2 separate regions of the Homo sapiens genome follow, and region 1 is linked to region 2. Evidence: fine-mapped expression QTL. A gene starts in region 2. The other region holds a variant in brackets. All regions are shown on one strand. Distances are from middle to middle.

The links. PIP is the estimated chance that this variant, and not a neighbour inherited with it, causes the effect.
Region 1: its variant is fine-mapped to the expression of AMPD3 in whole blood (INTERVAL, PIP 0.94).

Annotation. Positions count from the first base shown.
Region 1 is chr11:10,496,098-10,507,265 of GRCh38, reverse strand. It overlaps AMPD3 (adenosine monophosphate deaminase 3), which reads right to left. Exons shown (of 15, transcript NM_001025389.2): 10 at 10,328-10,454; 11 at 7,017-7,180; 12 at 5,676-5,796; 13 at 4,372-4,545; 14 at 2,607-2,717; 15 at 1-1,558. The coding sequence ends at 1,382. Among named protein-coding and RNA genes, the nearest start is that of MIR4485, 6.6 kb to the left of the region's middle. RefSeq lists an enhancer at 6,604-7,197. The variant C/A (reference allele first, on the strand shown) is at 5,830.
Region 2 is chr11:10,451,337-10,461,042 of GRCh38, reverse strand. AMPD3 (adenosine monophosphate deaminase 3) reads right to left here and starts at 5,779. Exons shown (of 15, transcript NM_001025389.2): 1 at 5,595-5,779. RefSeq lists enhancers at 1,926-2,055, 4,855-4,904, 9,173-9,302.

The sequences.
Region 1 (11,168 bases), 45 kb before region 2:
GATTCTTCTTCTAACTATAATGATTCAAAAAGACCTCCTGTAGTCTGAATTTGACCACAGAAATAGATAGGAAGGTCCTTGAGCAGCCTCTTAAGTACTAAGAGCACATGTCCTTAAAAAGTTGCCAAAAGAAATTCACTTAGTTATTCAATATGCATTTATTGAGCACCTACTACATACCAGGCACTAGTAACACAGATAAAGAGTACACTGATAAAGCTTAATTCAGATTAATCTTTAAAAATGCTTTCTACTTGGCCCCTGGGACCATTGTATCTTCTGAAGTCATCATAGTAGATAAGGGAGAAATTTTGCCTTAAAAAAATGCATCCGGTTACAGTGATTAAAAACACACACACACACACACACAACTAACATTTGTGGGGTCTAATGGAATAGTGGGGAAAAGACAGGATTTGGAATAAGGAAATCCAGTTTAGGCCTATTACTTATTAGCTGTGTGCCCTTAAGTTAAATTTCACTTATCTGGCCTAACTCTTAATTGGTAAAGTGATAATTGGCCTACAGTTGTAGCATATTAGAGCCAAAAGGAACAGAGATCATCTAGTCCTGTGCTTTTTGAAGTTCTTCGTTCAAATGAAAATATTATGTAGCAGCCCCAGTGTAAAACTGATGAACGCAGTCACTTTGACAGCCCCTGAGCATCACTCACTCCCTTCCCTCCCCTACCCTAAAGTATTCATGAGGAGATTCACAGAACACCCTGAAAGCCACTCATCTAGTCCAAACCCTCACTTTCTAGGTGAAGAAACCAAGACTCAGAATAGGAGTGGCTGTTTTCATGAGTACATTTGGCTTCCAACTAGAAAGAGGGAAGGAGGGCTAAATAAAACGGTTTAAGAAATTCACTAAAAACACAATTTGTCAAGAAGGAAGTCTTCCATCTTAACTCCTTCAAAGTAGCCCCTTTATGAAATGGAGCTTTGAAATTGATTGTGTTTAAGGCAGCCAGCCATCCAGAGGCTGAAATGAACAACTACCAATTAGCCTACCTGGGCCAATGGAGAAAAGTATGGCAGAAAACCACATGTTACTTGGCATCTGACCAGGGAAAATCCTGGCCCCAACAGTTCAGGCACTGGCAGTTTCAAGAGAAATACTTGGAAAATTAGGAACAAGTATAGACAAGTGCTCAGCTCCCAGATCCCCAAGGAGAAGTCACCATCTTGTTACTCAGAAATACTAACAAGTGAGCATGTTAACTCTTAAAGTGAGCAGTGCAACCAAAATCACCAGTTTAAAATTTCTTCAGAGGCATCCTCTTCACAGAGGAAAGTCCTAGTTCGGAATCTTGACCACTATTAGCCACAGCAGACTTGAAATTGAACCAAAAAGTTAAAATGCATGTCAAATGCTGGACCTAGTTGGTCAAGGCGGTGATCTCTTCTGATTTCATAGCATCAGACAGGAAGCTGAGCTCATTGCATAAGGTCTCATATCGGAATGCCATCCGGATCTGAGCCACATTTGTCTTTCGAATATCATTTCCTTCAGGTCCTTCTTTATAATAATTTTGTCCCAGAAACTTTTGCTTTTCCTGTGGACCAAGAGAAATACAAATGAAACTATATACTTTTGATTCACTTTCTATAGCCATGTGGGCAGCTTTGACATCAGTCACAGCAAGTCAGACTAGTCCCCCTGAAGCAGATCTTTGGTCAGGACATCTTATCCCCACAGAACTCTTAAAATTCCTGCTGGCCTCTGTGTCCTCAAGGATGTCACCCTGACAACCTCAGTCATCCTCAGACAGCCCTTCATTCCTGGCTGTGCTTTCCTTGATCAGAGAGGAAAGATAAGGTCTGCAGCAGCTGCTGGGGATGGGAAAGGCAAAGGGGAAGGAGGTAAGACTCTAATTAAGAAGCCCCTGAGAGCTGACAAGGACAATGTTCCTGGGGAGGGCCAATCCAAGGCACCACACTGCGCATGAAAAGAATCTTAAGCCTTTAACTCTGCTGCATCATCATCCGACGAGCACAGCCCCTAATGCAACCTCTTCCCAACCAGTGACATCACCCAGGGAGGTGTCGGGGGACCTAACGTACATCAGAACATGGGTCTCAGTGCCAGCTCCTCATCAGGCTTTTTAAAAAATGACAGATGTCTGAGTCCCATAGTCTAGATTTTTATTCAGTCTAGATACTGTTCATCTATTCAAGAAATATTGAGCGCCTGCTATGTGCCAGGGACTATCTAGGGCCCGGGGATATAATTCTGAACAAACCTCTGCCCTCACAGAGCTTACATGCTAGAGGGAAAGACAGAAAAACACATAACTAAACATCAGCAGGAATAAATGGTATGGAGAAAAACTGATTAAGGGGATAGAGAATAATAGCAAGTGTGTGGCTATTTTAGAATGGGCGATCAGGGAAGGCCTCTCCAAGGAGGCGTAGAGGTCTGAGAAGGGTGAGGAAGCAGCCATGAAAACACAGGAGGCTGCCGCGTCTTCTCTCCCTGTGCCTGAGTGTCTCAGAGGCCCTGCCTGCTATGTTCATCACAGATCCCCAGTGCCTGGAAGGCTCCTGGCACACAGCAGGCAGCCTTCCCAGGAGGGACACAGGCAGCACCGTCACACTCCATACCTGATGCGAGAGGCCGCTCTGCAGCACGCTGTTCCTGGCGATCTCACACAGGTCGCAGGTGCTCAGCTTCCACACTTGAGCTGCAATGGCATATTCTTCCATAAGTGCTTCCTAGATCCTCCCCCAAAGCATGTGGATTAGAAGGGGGGATATCCATGTCAATCGTTCACACATGTCCAAAGCTAACAACATCAGACACTGCGGGTTTAACTTTTCCTCACTAAATGGCACCTGGATCATCAAACATCACACCTTCAAAGCCTAAGATCTTTTCTTCTGTAAAATCATGGGTTATCAAAGAGAGATCTAAAATCACGCCTCTACATTTATTCATTGACCAGCACTGAGACCTCATGTTGAAACCCTGTGCCAGTCATCAGGGATGGCAGTCTCTGCTCTCCTGTGACAAGCCCTCTAGTCATGCCACATTTAGCACTTGCCCTCTAGCTTTTCTTTTTAACACACTATTTTCTTAAGTTTGCAATAGATAGATAGATGATAGATAGATAAATAGATAGATAGATAGATAGATAGATAGATAGATGAGTAAAGTACTAAAAGCAGAGATGGAACATCAAAAAAAAAATGAGAAGTGATCATAGGATAAGTGGTAAAATGGTGTAATCCCAGAATGATCTGGGTTTGAGCTGTGGTTTTGCTTCCCTTCTGGGATGTGAAGTGTCTATTCATCACAAGCCGTCTGTGACCTCTTCCCCACCCCACTGCCGCTGTAGCCTAGAGCAATAGTTCTCGAAGTACAGGTCAAGGACCCCTGAGGGTCCTAAGACCTTTTGAAAGGTCTTGTCTTTTCCAATTATGTATTTTCATGAGGCAAGATTTCTATTTTTACATATTTTGATTAAAAACAAATTGAATGCAGAAGTGGCTAGAAGAGTCCTGCTGACTTCCATTAAGACATTAAAGAGGCTTAAAAATGCAAAACAAAGGCAGGGGAAACTGTTACTTTTCAGAAAAAAAATCATTATTATGTAACATTTCATTGGTTTATTGATGTGGTTTTTAAATGAGATAATAAATATTTTAAAATTTCTTATTCATTTCTAACATGGTAAATATCAGTAGATATAACCCACATAAACAACAGGTCTTTGAAAGCTTCAATTCTTAAGAGTATAAAGGGGTCCAGAGACCAAGAGGTTGGAGAACCTCTGTCCTAAAAGACTCTGGTGCTTCTGTTTTTGTTAAGCAATGGCTGGTCTTGTCGACACCATCAAAACATGCTGGGTATACTTGCGGCTAGTCCCCATGCATGACACCACTGTTAGCTTCCTCTTTTATTTTCCCAGAGACCCAAAGTGTAGAAATTATAATAGCATTGATTTAAAAAGTAGCAACCATTTTGAATATATGCAGACACTATGTTAGAACCTTTGATTCATTATCTTCATGAATCCTTACAGGGTAGGGACAGAGAAAATTTTATCTCCATTTTACAGATGAAGAAGAACTTGATCCAGAAATCTAATAACTTTACCAAGGTCACAGAGCTCATAAATGTCAAAGAAAGAGAAAATAGAGGAAGGCAAAGATACTAAATTGTGCCTTTGAGGGTTCAAGAACCCCAAAGAAAGGGCTCCTGGATGGCACAATTTTCCCCCAACAGTGGCTTCCTTCCTGCCTTCACTGGGCCACCAACCCCACCCCAAAAGCAGAACTAAGCCATGGGCTCAGGTTCCTGAAATGGGAGGACAGGCTAGGACTGGTGCCTACTGAAGCACTACTGTCCTCACCCCAAAGTCCTTACCTTCGTGTAGTGGAACTGCATGGGGTCATCGGTGGAAAGAGAAACATGCAGTCCCTTGTGTAGGAATTCCCTCAGAGGGTTCTTGGAATATTCGAGGAACAAACTGTTGTTGCTAAGAGGAGACATGGCAATGGGGATCTGAGCAAGGTAGTAGAGATACTGCAATACCGGACTCTGCAAAAGAACCACCGAACTCATGTGACAAGTGCCAGAGAGGGGAGAAGGGAAAAGGGAAGGGAGAAAGGAAGGGAAGAAGCATTCACCAGTGGAAACCAGGGGTCTGAACCATGTCTGCCCAAGTCCTCAACCCGAGTTCCTCGAAGCCAGGACACTCAGACCCACTCTCCCCTTCCCCACTGTTCATCTCATTCCTACATTGCATGCCAGCCCTCCCTGGTGCCTCTACCCACTGTTGGAAGTGCTCATTCTTGCTCCAAACTGGAGGCAAGGCTCAGGGCAGGAAGGGCAGCCCACTCCAGCCTACACCTTCAGCTCCTTTCTCCTAGGCACGGACCCAGTCTAGAAGATGCCCCCCTCTAGCTGTTTTATTGCTTTGACTGCAAACAGCCAGGTTGAGACTATAAACACTCCAGCTCCTGGGAGATGATCCCTGAAGGGATGGGAGGGGTGGACCTGCCCAGGATAGAGTGGTTTTCTACTGTAGCACCCACCCCACCCAAAAATGTGACCCATGGTTACACCTCACCGGGATCAGGGAAAGGGAGCATTTTGATCAAACATCGTGCCAATGGAAAGTGATCCAAAATACGGAGAAGACTGTATGCACAGAGCTCAAGGGTACACCAGTGAAAAGGTGGATGGACTCTGTGCCCAACTAGTGTGGACTGGTTGAGTCAATTACAGACAAAGTGGCAGACCCTTCATCCAACAACAGCCTTTGGAAAAAGGAGCATAGATATTACGTTGCAGCATCAAAAAATGCTTGTCATACAACAGTAAGGGACGAGGCAGGAACCAAATTCTGTGTTCATTATGATAATAAACACATTAAAAATATGCTGTGGATAAAAGATGGAAATTAGATATACTAAAAAGCTAATAATGGCTATTTCTATTAATGTAATAGCATAAGGGCTGGCTTTTTTCCATTTCTCCAGTTTTTGGAAAATCAAAATTGTGATGAGTTTGATTATATTACTTTCATAATTAAAAATAAAACCAAGATAAGGACAGACATCCCAGCCCAGAAGAGGGCCCAGCCTTCTGGCCTCACTGGTTGAGCCTCCCAGGAGCCCAGGGCAGGGCAGTCACTCAGGACGGGCTCCCGAGAGTGACCTGGTTACCTTCTTGAGGAGCAGCCCGTGGGAAATGTTGTCAGCAGTGAGGAAGGCAGACACCAGGTGGGTGATGGAGCCGGCTTCCCCACAGTGCGGCCGGAACAGGAACGTGCTCAGGCCGCGCTCCCTGTAAGAGAAGGGGTTTCCGAATCAGGAAGGC[C/A]CCCCCCAGTTGGCTCTGCCTGGGGCCTGCAGCCACAGCTCAGGGCCAGCTCCGGGGGGAATGACCACCCATGGTCAGCTGTGCTGACCCAGTGCACCCTGGAAACTACCCCTCCTAAAATGCAGAGGTCCAGGCCCTGGGGCCCCTTAGAACCAAGAAGCATCACCTCTACGGGCAGAGAGTGGGCCTCGCAGTAGAAAGAGACCCTGCTGTGCCCTCCAGCCACTCTCCTGAATTCCTCTCCTGGCCTTGTGTCCCGCATTCGTAGAACTCCAGAGCAGGGAAGGCCATGAGAAACCACAGAGTCTGACCTCTGTGTTATGGAAATGGGCAAACCAAGGCCCGGAGAGTGAAGTCTATGTTCCATGCCACTGAACAGGTCAGTAGCAAAGCCAGAACCAGAGCCCCCATCTCCAAAAGCTCAGCCCAGGACTGCCTCCACCCTGCCAGGCCATTTCTTTCAATCAGGACCCCATTCGAAACCTCCACACCCACCAACTAGCACCAGTTTAGGCTGAGCTAGAGAGACCCCAGGGCCCAGCAGGGGAAAGTGGGATGCAAGACTTGTAGGGAAGGGAATGGCTCAGTGTCCTGCTGCCCTGGGCAGCTAACTCCTGGCCACGTGTGCCTCGTCTGTGTGCGTATTGGTAGGAGCCTCTGCCTGTAAGGGCATGCATGGATTTAGTCTGTTTTGTTCCCCGTTATTTGTCCAGTGCCCAGGGCAATGCCTATCGCATGCCAGATGCAGTGATTTGCTGAACGAAAATATGCACGTGTGGACATTGTTGGTGTGGCAGTAAGTGACCGTGCATGTGTGATAGCATGTCCTATGCTTCCATTATCTCAGGGATGTACAGGTACACGTGGAGTGTGCCCTGGTGTGTGTACATATAAATGTGTGGACACGTGTGGACTGTGGCTGCATTGCATACTGTACATGACATATGTCTGTACTGGCATGTGTGTTATGGTGGGCATGTTTGCATGTGTGTGATCATGTGGAGACATGCCTCATATAGCAGGCTGGAAAGTGCTGTGTGTTTTGAGGTGTGTGGGCACATGGACATGCATGTTGGTTCAGGTGCACACGGACACAAGGATCACATGCATGTGTGTGTGCATGTGTGTGCATGCGTGCATGTACTAACACATGAACCCAAGCATGTGCGAGGGCAGGCCTCACGCACCTGCGGAGGTTGTTGAGCACCATGATGTTGGCATACATGTAGTACAGGTAGTAGCTGTAGGGTGGGTTCTGCTCACTGGTCCAGACGTCCGGGTTTGGGCTCTTGTCGGAAAACATGTGGTCGCTGTGCTTGGACTCATCATCCACGCTGTCAAACCCCGTCACCTGGGCAGGAGAGGTCCTGAGCACCAGGCCAAGGCAGGACCAGGACTCAGCCTCGGTTCAGCCTCCCAGAGCTCATAGCTGCCAGAGGCCTGTGGGTCTGGGCCCCTCAGGTTCACACCTCAGCTGGGGACCCCTTGGCCTGCCTGAGGCCATATTCCTCCCAGGGATGAAAAGTGGGTACAACACCAAGGTCTGCCCCTTCGGAGCTTCCATAGGTACTCTGGAGGTGAGACAGGAGAGTGCCAAGCCCCTGTGTGGTGGTGGTGACAGTGGAGGAAACTGCCAAGCCAGGTGAAGGGCAAAGCAGCCATGGCCACCACCTGCCCCTCTGCTATGCCGAGGCCAGCCTGCAGGGAGGAGTGGCCATTGCCATCAGCAGCAGCGACAAGCGATGAGGGAAAAGGGTCCTAGTACACATCACTCATCAAGCCCTGCTCAAAGCACTTTACTCACGTCAGTTAATTCATATTCAGAGCAACCCAGGAGGGAGGGGTTGGCTGCCAGCCCCATTTTACAATTGAGCAAACCAGGGCCAAAGCAATTAAGAAAGTTGCTCAAGAAACCAGGTTTGGCCAGACATGATGGCTCATGCCTGTAATCCTAGCACTTTGGGAGGAGGAGACGGGCAGATCACGAGGTCAGGAGTTCGAGGCCAGCCTGCCCAACATGGTGAAACTCCGTCTCTAGTAAAAAAAAATACAAAAATTAGCTGGGCATGGTGGCGTGCACCTGTAATCTCAGCTACTCAGGAGGCTAAGGCAGAAGAATCACTTGAACCCCGGAGGTGGAGGTTGCAGTGAGCCGAGATCGCACCAGCCTGGGTGACAGAGCAAGACTCCATCTAAAAAAAACAAAAAACAAACAAACAAAAAAAACAGGTTCTGGGCTCTGGGTCTGCACTCTTTGGGGCGGTAGGTAGAGAATACTCTAGGGCATGTCCAGGTGTGGCCAGGAGAAACCCGCCAGCTGCCTCACAGACAGATAAGAGGGTCCTTGCTGGGCTAAGCCATGGCTCCTGGGAGGCAGCTCTGCTCTCCAATCCCCACTGGGAGCTGCCCTCTGAGATGGGCCTGAGTAGCCTCAGGAAACCCCCACCCTTCCACTGCAGTTCTACCTTGGCTGGGACCCCTGGGGGGCTGCTCCTGAGTCACTGGAGCCTTCTGGCTGATCCCAGGGGTCATCCCCAACCAAGAACACATGCATGGAGGGTACGGGCTCTCAGCGCACAGGGGAGGCTTGCTACCAGGCCACGGCAGTGCTTTGCAAAGGGGCCTCTGAATAGCAGATGGGAGAAAGAGACTGTCCCCCTTAATCCACAACTGGCCCAAACTGGAGGGCTCCCAGCCCACGCCCCAGACCCCAGCCAGGTCTGCTGGCCTCTCCTGTTCCTATGGGGGCAGCAAAGGCCCAGAGGAGCAAGGCAGCTTGGCCAGAATCTTCCGTGTCACAGAGCCCTGTGTGTCAAAGGAAATGACAGGGTCCCTGCTATGACCCTAAGCACTCCCTAGACGGGTTTGGGGGGCCAGGGAGGACCTTGAGCTCTGCTCTGTGCTCACTAGCTCCATACTTCACCCGAACTTTCTGGGGCCTGGCATGCGGATAATTTCAGCCCCTCTTCAGAGCTCTATCCAGCTGAAGCAGGGCCTCACCACTGCATCTCCCACAGCCTCGGGTGCAAAATGCGTTGTCTCCTCCTCCTGCTCTTCCTCCTCCTCCCCATACCTGCTCTTCCTCCATTGCTGGCAGCAACCTTCGGACAGCACATCATCCATGCTCCTGCAAAGCCAGGCACCTGGGAGGCATCCTAGACTCCCCCCAGTGCCTCCTTCAGTCTCTGTCCAGGTCCTGCCAGGTGTACGCCCACCGCTTCTCACCAAGCCCCACACTTTGTGCAGAGTCCCTGCGCTGCCACACCTCAGAGACGCAAGCTGGTAGCTGCTGTGCACCTTACTATTCTCACTTGGGAGGCAACATAGAATAGGGGTTCAGGGTACATCGCTGGAGTCAGCCTGCCTGGAAACGCATTCCAGCTCTGCCACTTTTAGCTTTATGATCTGTTTTAATTTCCTTGTGTGTCAATTGAAGCTAGCAGCTTCACAGGGCTTTGGTGAGGATTAAATGAGATAATCCAGGGAGAGCACTCAACACCGTGTCCAACACGCACCAAGCACATAATAATTCCGCTTACTGTTAACAACAAAATGGTGATAGTAACGGGGTAATTGTGAGGCTTAGGTGAGATCACGTTGTGGCGTCTGACCAGGCCAGGCAGAAGCACGCACGAGTGTGAGCTATTTCCGCTGGGTCAAGCTCCCCTCCTGTCTCCAGGCAGGCCCCTGACTCTCACCCCTGCCCCCACCTCCAGCTACCTTCTCTTCTGGGCCAACTCCACACAACAGCCAGAATATGTTTGTCTAAAACATAAATTTGATGATGTCCCTCAGCTTGTCCAGTCACTTTCTGGGCACACAGACTCAATTCTTTCCCCGTGCCCCAGCCCTCGGGCTCCCCGCTGTGCCTCTCCCTGTAGAAAGTCATCCATCACCAGGCACTGGCCTGTATCACCATCTGATACCCCCTCGATCCCAGGCATCCGGAGGGTGGGACCGGCTCCCGCCCCCTCCGCCTCCCTCCCTGGTTAAGCCTCTCCCAGACTGCTCCTCTCCTTCTCCTACAACTGGATCCGGAAGGGAAATACACTTTAGGGGCTTGTACTTAATCACACATGGTGTGAGGGCCTCTGTTGCGAGGTAAAGCAGGTGAATTGAAGTGTTTGCATTTCCGAAAAAAAAACCTGAGGCTGCTGCTTGGTGCTGCCGGGGGCTAGATCCAGCCTTTCCAGCCCCACCTGGCAGGAACCGAGTTCCCAGTCTTTGCCCACTGTTGCCTTCCCTGCTGGGGGAAAGGCCTACCCCAAGACCACCACCCCCATCCCCCCACACCCACTGACTCCCAGAGCTGCCCCTGAGGAGAAGGGGACTTTTTAGAAATCTAGCTTCTTGGGGCTGGTGACCCCACGCCTGGAACACAGGTGGCAGGACCTAAGATACCATCGTGAAGGGCAGGAGCAAGCCTGACCCAGCTCACAGCGAATCCATTCCTGCCTCTGCCGCTATGAGCCCTGCCTAGGGCACCACCCACACTTACATATTTAAGGAAGAGGTGAAGCTCTCGATGATCTTGGGGGTTGATAGTGGCCTTGAAAAGGGGCAGGAAGATGTTCTCCAGCATCTTCCCAAAGTTTGGCAGCAGCTTCTTTGACCTAAATATGTCACTGGGGGACAGCAAAGACTCGCTTGTCAGGTGGATCCAACAGCCTGCTGCCCTGTCAGAGACCAGCCCCAGTCACTTCCTCAGGCACCCTGTGTCCCCATCAAACACCCAGAATCAAGTCAGATGGGACCAGAAAACAGATCCCTCCTCTGTCCTCCTCTCCCAGCAATGTCTGCAATATTCTGCCTTGGTTTGCAAGCTCCACACCTACCCATGCCCATCAGAGCACTTTCTCAAGCCAGAAGCCACTAGGAATGGGATGGTGGCATTCTGGCTGACCAAGAGACTGAGATATGAATCCTCAAATTCCCAGTGACCCAAACATTCTGTTACTCAGCTCTGTTTCCCTAAACCACATACCCCAGCCCATCCTGGAGCCATGGGCTCCACCCTGGCCAGCCGCCTGGAGAGGACAGCAGCCGTCTGAGTGACATCCAGGGAGAGGCCAGCAATGTAGACCACTACAGCTCTCCCCATACCCTGGGGCTCACCAAAAGGACAATCCATCCTCAACCCACAATGAGAAGAAGGCGGGGGTAGTAGTTCCCCCAAGGCCTTTGCACATCTATATTTTTCAAAGATCAAGAGTTCTAGTGTCAGCTGGATGCAGTGGCTCACACCTGTAATCCCAGCATTTTGGGAGGCTGAGGCAGGTGGATCACGAGGTCAGGAGTTCAAGACCAGCCTGGCCAAGATGGTGAAACCCCATCTCTAC
Region 2 (9,706 bases):
GGGAAATCCAAAGCTGCATTCTTCATTACATAAATCAAGGCCTTTTGCTGAAGAGAAAGAATCTGCTATTGCAGTTCCAAACCCTCTGGAACCTCCTAACAAGACACAGCAAATAAAATAAAGGTTTTAGAACACTCTTTACCCAGCTGAAAACTCACTCCCTCAAAGAAGCTTTCTCTATCCACCTCCTCGCATACTGATTCCTTACTAACAGTCACTGGCCTCAACCACCTGCTTGGTTGGTTGGGTTTCATTCTTGCTTGCTTGCTTTCTTCATTTCCTTATTTCTTTCCTTTTTTGCAATTACTTGTATAGCACTTAATATGTACACTCTGGCCAGGCGCATTGGCTCACGCCTGTAATCCTAGCATTTTGGGAGGCTGAGGCGGGCAGATCACCTGAGGTCAGGAGTTTGAGACCATCCTGGCCAACATGGCAAAACCACGTCTCTACTAAAAATACAAAAAAATTAGCCAGGCGTGGTGGCAGGCACCTGTAATCCCAGCTGCTCAGGAGGCTGAGGCAAGAGAATTGCTTAAACCTAGGAGGTGAAGGTTGCAATGAGCCAAGATTGAGCCACTTCACTCCAACCTGGGTAACAGAGTGGGACTCTGCCTCAAAAAAAAAAAAAAAGTATACTCTGGGGCCGGGTGTGGTGGCTCACGCCTGTAATACCAGCACTTTGGGAGGTCAAGGCAAGAGGACTGCTTGAGCCCAGAAGTTTGAGACCAGCCTGGACAACATGGCAAAACCTCATCCCTAAAAAAGATTTAAAGAATTAGCCAGGTATGGTGATGCATGCCTGTAATCCCAGCTGCTAGGGAGGCTGAGGCAGGAGGATCTCTTGAGCCAGGGAGGTTGAGGCTGCAGTGAGTTATGATCGTACTACTGCACTCCAGCCTGGGAGACAGGGTGAGACCTCGTCTCAATTTTAAAAATAAAATATATATATATATATAAAATATATATTATATATAATATATATTATATATAATATATATTTTATATATGTATACATACATATATATACTCTGCAAAGAACTTCATACTTATTAACTCAGTTAATCTTATTATTCCCACTTGACAGATGAGAAAATGAAGGCATAGAGAGCTAACATGCCCAGGGTCACACTTTTAATAAGTCAGCAGAGATTTGTGCTGTTCTCAGCCTTTCTCTCTCATCCCTTTCCTCTCTGATCCTCAGCTCAGGGATCTGAACCCAGGCACCTGGTTCCTGCCTCTGTCCCCTCACCCACCATGCTGTGCTGCTTCTCTTTGTCCACGTATGTGTCCGGGCAGGGGCTCCTCACAGTCCCCAGCATAACACTTGTGGAATGGATTAATACTGCACCCTTTTCGACAAGCCACCCTCGTTGGGAGCAGCTCTGGAAGAGGAGTTTCCCATCTACCTATGACCACAGTTTCTTTAAAGTTGGTTTAAAGAGAGAAGTGGTTTTGTGGACCAGACAGACAAGAATGGAGATGAGACAGAGCCCTGCTGCTGTCCAGCAGGGAGAAGTGCAGCTACAGGGGAGGGGAACACACTAGGCCATCTTGGGACAGTCATTCTCCGGCCTCACAATGTTCTCATCTGTGAGATAAAGGGATTGAACTAAGTGGTCTCTAAGGCCCTCTCAGCTCTAAGTGGCATAATTCTAGGTACCAGAGAGATTTCCGGTGCCTGAGGAGGGCTTGCTGCTCTGAGTCTGAGTGGCATGTGGGACTAAGTCATGACACAGACAGGAAGGAAGAAAGCAGGCTAGCAACAGGCAATCAGAGTGAGGTCTGTGGCTCCCTTAACTCTGAGACCCAAGGACCTGCCACTCCCTGATGAGAGGAGTGGGAGGGAGCTGGTGGGGAACAGCCTGTCAACACACAACTGTCTGGGGAGCAGACATCAAGACAGCGAGGCCTGGCCTCTGCAAAAAGGAAGAGGAACAGAGCTGCCTGTGGGGATTTCCATGTCTTGATAGCAGAGAGGGGGGAAGCTGGAGGCCATCAAAGGAGGTGACAGGGGAGAGAAAGTCTGGAACAGCACAAAGAACCAGACCCAGGAGGCTCCATCAGGCTGAAACGAAACTGGATCCTCACCTCCCCCCTTATTCCAAGGCCACCAATCAAGGGCACCATCCCAAAACCTCACATCGCATCTCAGAAGAAGATATGCAACCCAACAGCCCAGGCAAAAGGCCGCAAATGCCATAAAGCACCATACCATTTGACTAAGCAACTTTACTTCTACAAATTTCTTTCAAAAAAAGAATCCTAAGAATGAAAAGCACAAGGATATTTACCTGCATTATTTACATAAATAGCTTTAAAATGCCTAAATTAGAGCATACTCACTTGAAAAAGATGTTAAGTAATCAGAATTATGATTATGAGGATGGTGCAATCACATAAAAAAATAAAAATACAGTAAATGAAAAAATTAATACATAGAACCATACCCATGCTTTATTTACAGTGAAAGGAAAATGCATCCCTTTATGGGCAAGACCTGCAAGAGATTCACGCAGTCAAAATGACCAGGTGGCAGGGCTGCCTGTGTGTGAGAGGATATTTTATTTTGATGATGAATGCTATTATAATGCCATTTTTAACAAATACAAAGAGAATAGAAAGAAAATGAGTAGACTTAAGACTCTATGAAAAGAGAGAAAAATAGGAAAACAAACTTCTTTTTCTGGCAGGTTTTGGCAATTAGGGCTCCCTCCTTAATTGCCGAAGGGAGGGAGGGAGGGAGCATCACCATACCTGGCTAATTTTTTTTTTTTTTTTTTTTTTTAGAGATGAGGTTTTGCCATGTTGTCCAGGCAATTTGGGAGGCTGAGGAGGAAGGATCACTTGAGGCTAAGAGTTCAAGATCAGCCTAACCCACACTATTGAGAGGCCAGGCCAAAGGGAGTTTCACCATTCAGACCTATCTCTGTGTTAGCTCCTACCCTGGACAGAAGCCATCCACCACCAGCAGCACCTTCCTACCTCCTTCATGCCCTCAGACACACACAGGCCTGACCCAGACACCCCCAACCAGGCTCCCTTGGCAATGGGTATTTGGGTGGGAGGGAAGTCCTTGATGTCTGAGGGCTCTTATGCCAGATCCTGCCATGTTTGCTCATGAAGCATGCATTTATTCATTGATTGATTGAGAGACAGGGTCTCAGTTGCCCAGGCTGGAGTGCAGTGGCACAATCACAGCTTACTGCAGCCTCGACCTCACAGGCTCCGGTGATTCTCCCACCTCAGCCTCCCGAGTAGCTGGGACCACAGGCACACACCACTATGCCTGGCTAATTTTTGTATTTTTAGTAGAGATGGGGTTTCACCATGTTGGCCAGGCTGGTCTTGAACTCCTGGTCTCAAGTGATCCGCCTGCCTTGGCCTCCCAGGGTCTAGGATTATAGGTGTGAGCCATCATACCAGCGCACAAAGCATTTTTAGCTTGCTCTAATCAACTAAAAATACTTTTCAGGACACAGCTTTCTATAACATATCTTCCTTTCTCTTTAGCTTAAATCAACCTTTCCCAAACTGGATGCCATAAGAAATTGATACCTGTTGCTGGTAAAACAGGTCCTGTGGTCAGTTATTGGGAGATGTTGCATTCCACAGCCCCTCAACTCACATTCATAAGGCTCATTAAAATCAAGGATCATAGAGTAACATTAACATACAGAACCCTTTTTGTTTTACAGAACCCATAAAAATCTTCCGCAGAACTACTACCAGTGTCTTAAATAGTTGGTAGATAATTCATTCCAAGACCGGGTGCAGTGGCTCATGCCTATAATCCAAGCAATTTGGGAGGCTGAAGAGGATCGCTTGAGGCCAGGAGTTCGAGATCAGCCTGGTGCAATATGTCAGAACCTCATCTCTACAAAAAATAGAAAAAAAAACAGCCAGGTGTGGTGGCATGCACCTGTGGTCTCAGCTATTTGGAAGGCTGAGTTGGGAGAATTGCTCGAGTCCTGGAGGTGCAGGCTGCAGTGAGCCATGATGGCACCACCGTACTCCAGCCTGGGTGACAGAGCAAGACCTTCTCTCAAAAAAAAAAAAAAAAAAGCAAGAAACAACAGCAACCACAACAAAATAATTAATTCCATATCTTAGTATGGACCAAGTAACCCACTTGGGGTGCTGCAGGCCTTAGCAGCTGCCCCCACATCTGCTGCCTTCTGGATGTCCTTGGCAGACAGCTCCCACCTGCCAACCCGTCCCTCCAGAGTGTCTCTCCTCTCAGACCCTCCAGACACCTGCCAGGCCAGGCCTGACAAGGAAAGCTCACTCTGCAGATGCCAAGCAGAGCTTCAGCTCCAGCTGCATGTTCACGCCTGGCTTCCAACCCTTTGTCAGCTGAAGCCAGCAGGCTTGGGAGGCTTAGCTGTGAATTCACCAGCATCAGTCAGCCAATGATACAGCTTATCTCACTGTTACATGCAACACGCTCTGATGAACTTGAAGAAGTGTCCCAAAGTTAGAAAGTTCTAAAACACTGCCAGTTTCAACAAACAGTAACTTTTCATGGTGCCACAGTCCCTCCAGAAAGGAAGCCCAGTGCCACTGAAATCCCCTCGTTATACGAAGGAAGCTGGTTCCTACTCTTGCCAGACTCCCCTTGCAGAAGCCCCGACACAGACCTGAGCCTGGCTCCATGACTGGTCCTGAAGATGCCACTCAAGTGATGCACCCGGGTGAGGTGCTGCCTGCCACCCAGGAGGCTCAGCTGAGTCAGTGCGTGCGTGCAGCTGGCTGGGTCCTGTCTGCCGGCTGGAGTAGGAGGTCTCTGTTTTGCATATCTGTGAGCAGCAGTGAGCCAGAGCAGGAAAAGCCTGGGCTGGAAATTCTCTCGTGAATATGAAATATGAGTGGAAAATTTCCAAGAGCCCTGAAGTCCCCAGGTAATCCCAGTTATCCAAAACAAAATGGCTGTGGTATCCTGAATGCAGTGTCCTGGCCCTCTTCACAGCCCTCACAAGAGGAAACTAAAGCGGCGGCTTCCTCTTTACAACAGTAAACTCAGCCGTCCTGCCCAGCTGCAGGAGATAAGCCACAGCCTCCCTCTAACGCCCAGCCTCCTCCTGAAAGCTGAGTAGCAACGAGCGATATCATCACCTTTGCTGCTTCCGTTCTGAACGTGCTTCAGGCCTGGCTGCATTTTATCAAGGGGATTGGTCTCAGGTACAGCCCGACCTGCCTCTTCTCAGAAAGCCCCCCTAAAGCAGCCCTCCCAAGGGCACCCCATAACTGCCAGGGGGAGCTTCAATCCCAGTTGCTAATACAATCCCCTCCATCCCCTCCTCCTCTGAAAGGGAAAGACCATGAACTGCTTCCACCTTTCCCAGGAAAGGACAGAGACTCAGGGAGCAGGAACTGCCTCAGCACAGAGGCGGACAGAGGACAGGGGCAGGCTAGGATGAAAAGCTGACAGCCCCATCCCACTCCTTCCTTTCTTCCCAGAAGGAAGCCCACATCACAGGTGACTGCGAAGCCTGATAAGCTTTACCAGAACCCCCACCCCCATCCACACACACAGAAAAGGAGTACACCCCAACTGACCCACCGGAGCCCACCCCAAACCCTCCCCTGCTTACAGCCGCTCACTGCTCCCACGTGGGCCTCCAGCTCCGAGCGCTGGCTGGACTCTGCCACTCCTCCTGGGGAAGGTGGAGCCTGCCTCAAGTGACCCACAGGAGCAATCCTCTAAAACCAAGCAGGGTTGATTAAAATGGCATCACAGGGTGCAAAGCTCTGATCTTCATCTGCCCTTTAGGAGAGTGGGAAGGCTCAGAACAGACACATAGCCTCCCAGTGACTTAGGCAAATCCTGTGGTCCTGGGAAATAACCATGAGCAAAATGGCTATTTCTGTGGTGCTGTTGAAATCCTGGGGAGAAGAGCTCAGGAAGGATGGGTCAGTTGTTTACCGGGAGGCTAGCTGTAACCCTGACTTGGGCCTGAGTCACCTCCGCATGTCCAATCGTGAGGTTGTGTCTTACTGAGCTCACATCATAATTCCTGTGTGCACAGAGCAGTATTACAGGGTTGACACATGATCCTCGGGCTGCTGCTGGGCTTTAGCTACCCAGAGATTACGGCCCACCTGTCCTCACAGCTGTTTCATAAACAGTGCAACCAGCAGGCTACAAGCAACCTAGAGGGAGGGTAATATTTATTCATTAAACAATTAAATGAACTTACAGTATGAGAAAAAAATCCAAGCCCTTAGTACTATTCTGCCAGAAGGAGGAGGGGCAGATGACTTTTTCTGCTAGTGTTTTGGGGAAAGGGGAGGTAGAGTGGGGACTGCAGTGGGAGGATTCCAGCCCAAGGATTTAAGTCCGACACGTTCAGGGAATTTTATTCTGCACCTTTAACCGGATCCCAGCTAGCCTTAGTCTAAACAAGCATTTTTCAAAGTGCAGTCTGCAGAACATGAAAGGTCAGAAGGCTTGGAAAACACTGCATCCTGTAGTCCCTTATGGGTATTCATGCACAGTTTCTACTAGCAAATTCAACACCTGAGAAGTCCTGCAGTAAAGAAAGCTGCTTAACTTTGTTTAACCCGACGCACTTATTTGACCATCCTAGAACTGCTGTCATAGGAAAAAAACACCTATTAATATCTTGTGGTATCGGCTTTGGGAAACACCCTCCACCTTGAGTCTTCATTTTCCAACTTAGAGAAAGCTGCCTTCCTGGAGCCCAGTTTACAGGTATGAGACCCATTGCATCGGGTTCAGACAGAAACCAGCAGCAGCTCCACTAAGATGACACAGGTTGTAACAATGACCAAGGGTCCTGCTGAAGCCAAAAGGCGGGAAGACTCCCCAGAACATGGGCAGTTTAGAAGAAAAATACAGTTCTGTCCCAGAAGAGCAAGCTCTTCTCAGGACCTCACAATTCCACCTTGAGCCTAACTTGTTGCTGCTTCTTGCAGCCAAGATGTCTCTGTGGACTGAAGAGCACTGATCCCAAGCTCAAAGCCTTATTTCCCTTTCGAACAAACATCAAGACAATTTATGATAACCAGATACAGGGCCCGCTTCTCCTGCCCGAGACTAGACTGCATCCCCTTTTATCACTTAAGCACCCCTTACAAACTCTAAAAGACAGGAGAGGACGGAATCAAATTATGTCTCATCAAGAAAGATATCGGCCGGGCATGGTGGCTCATGCCTGTAATCCCAGCACTTTGGGAGCCCGAGGCAGGTGGATCACAAGGTCAGGAGATTGAGACCATCCTAGCCAACGTGGTGAAACCCCATCTCTACTAAAACACAAAAAATTAGCTGGGCATGGTGGTGCGCACCTGTAGTCCCACCTACTTGAGAGGCTGAGGCAGGGGAATCACTTGAACCCAGGAGGCAGAAGTTGCAGTGAGCTGACATTGCACCACTGCACTGCACTCCAGCCTGGCGACAGAGCAAGACTTTATCTCAAGAAAAAAAAAAAGAAAAAGAAAAAGAAAGATATCACTCTCCTCCCCAAAAGCCAGGCATGAGCTTGCATAGAGGGGTTCATTTTTCTTCTCATTTGTGAGGTGTGTGTGACTCACACAAGGAGTTGGACAAAGGGGATTCACTTGCTAAATACCAGCTCCATGACAAATCTCGCCTGTCTCATTCACAGTTGTATCCCCATACCTGAAATATGGTCGACATTCAGCAAGTATTTGTTGAATGAATGAATGCATAAAACAATGAACAAGTGAACTAGCTATTTATAATAGATCAATCCACCTATGGCAATCTCAGGAATGAGTAGAGTGTATGGCTAAAAACGTAGACTCAGGCTGAGTGTGGTGGCTCACGCCTGTAATCCCAGCGCTTTGGGAGGCCGAGGCGGCCAGACCACTTGAGGTCAGGAGTTTTGAGACCAGCCTGGCCAACATGGGGAAACCCCATCTCTACTAAAAACACAAAAATTAGCCTGGCATGGTAGCGGGCGCCTGTAATCCCAGCTACTTGGGAAGCTGAGGCAGGAGAATCGCTTGAACCCGGGAGGTGGAGGTTGCAGTGAGCTGAGATTGTGCCACTGCACTCCAGCCTGGGTGACAGAGTGAGACTCCATTTCAAACAAACAAACAACAACAAAAAAAACTCCAGCTAGACTCCCTGCATTTGAATCCTGTTCCACCACTTAGTTGTATGACCTTGGGCAAGTTAAATAACTTTTCTGTGGCTCGGTTTTATTCCCTATGAAGTGTGGATAATAAAAAGCCAATCTCATAGGTTGCCATGACAATGAGCATAAGTGAAGTGTTTAGACTGGTACCTGGCATAGAGTATGTGTTTTATAAGCATTATCTGCCAACATCATTGTCATCATCATTATGATATCAGATACGAGAGAGAAGAACTAGGAAAATGAACATGAAGTTTTATCTAGACACTGAATCCTTTTATTCAACCTTATTTATTGAGCACCACCATGTGCCTGGCACTCTCCCAAGTTTCTATTACCTGGGTGCAGGAAGAAGGAAAACATATTTAAATGTGAAGCCAGATCAGGAGGAGGAACATCCTTCTCCCCTATGAATGGTACTTCTCGGTGACTGTACACAGCCAGGACTCCAGCCATGAGCTCATCCTCCCATGCCCCAGTCAGTTCCTTACAAATCAAAAGCCCAAAGCAATTGTCTGTTGTCCTAGATATGCAACCAGCATACAGAAGAACTAAGAGATTATTATACTTGGTGGAAGAATCATGGAGGCCAATGGGCAGCTTTAGGGGAGAAAGGGTATCTCCCTGTTAACCCGAAGGCTACATGTTATCTGCCCATGACATTTTCAAGACCTGAGACAGATTTTGAGGCCATTTGAAGAGTGATCCAGTCAGTGTAGAGGCAAAAAAAAACAACTACAAAAAACCTCATCTCTCAAAGAGCTTCTTGACCTAGCTGAGAGCTAGGAGAACCTTAGAAGACAGAGGCTGAGCTAAGGATGGGACTGAGAGGTCAAAGAGTCTCCCAGCCACCACCTATGCAGGTGTCATTATTCCTAGAGAGGGCAGCCCCATACCATCATCCTCAGAGCAAGCCAGGCCCCATGAAGCTGCAGCCAGGCCAGGCCAACTACCCCAGACCTGCTGTCAACACTCCTAGAGGTGTGAAGTGACAGAGGCTCTGTCTGTCTGGCTCAATGGCTCCACTAACACTCGGCCTTAGTGCTGCACAGCCAGGGAAAGAATTTCTCCTCTGCAGGTTCCAGCTGCAGGCAGCTTTTCCATGAAGATGGCCAAATGTTGGTCACTGCATCCTGAGGGAAAGCCAACAGGGGCTCAAGACCATGCTAAAATCCCTCCTTGTGCTGCCTGCTTTCACCCAGCTCCTTTGCTGATGTGTCGCCATCAAGCTTTCAGCCACATACAGTTTGGGGAAATGATACCCTAGTTAGCAAGCCTCTCCTACTCCAAGGCCTCTCAAAACTCTCCCCAGGGACCTCTGCCAGCCTACAACAGCCATTAGCAGCTCTGCTGGCAAAGCAGCTACCAGAAGATCAAGGGCAGAAAGCAGACTGCCAGAGCCCAAGGCTGTACACCTCCCTTGCCGGGAGAGAGCCAAAGAGGTAAGGATGAAGGCCTCAAACGACCTCATCACCCTATCATCCAGTGCATCCCTCGCCTCCAGGTAGAAGTCCACCTCAGCTGTCCACATCCAGCCAGTCCTCAAGCACCTAGGAACTTTGCCCAGGGTGGCAAGTCCC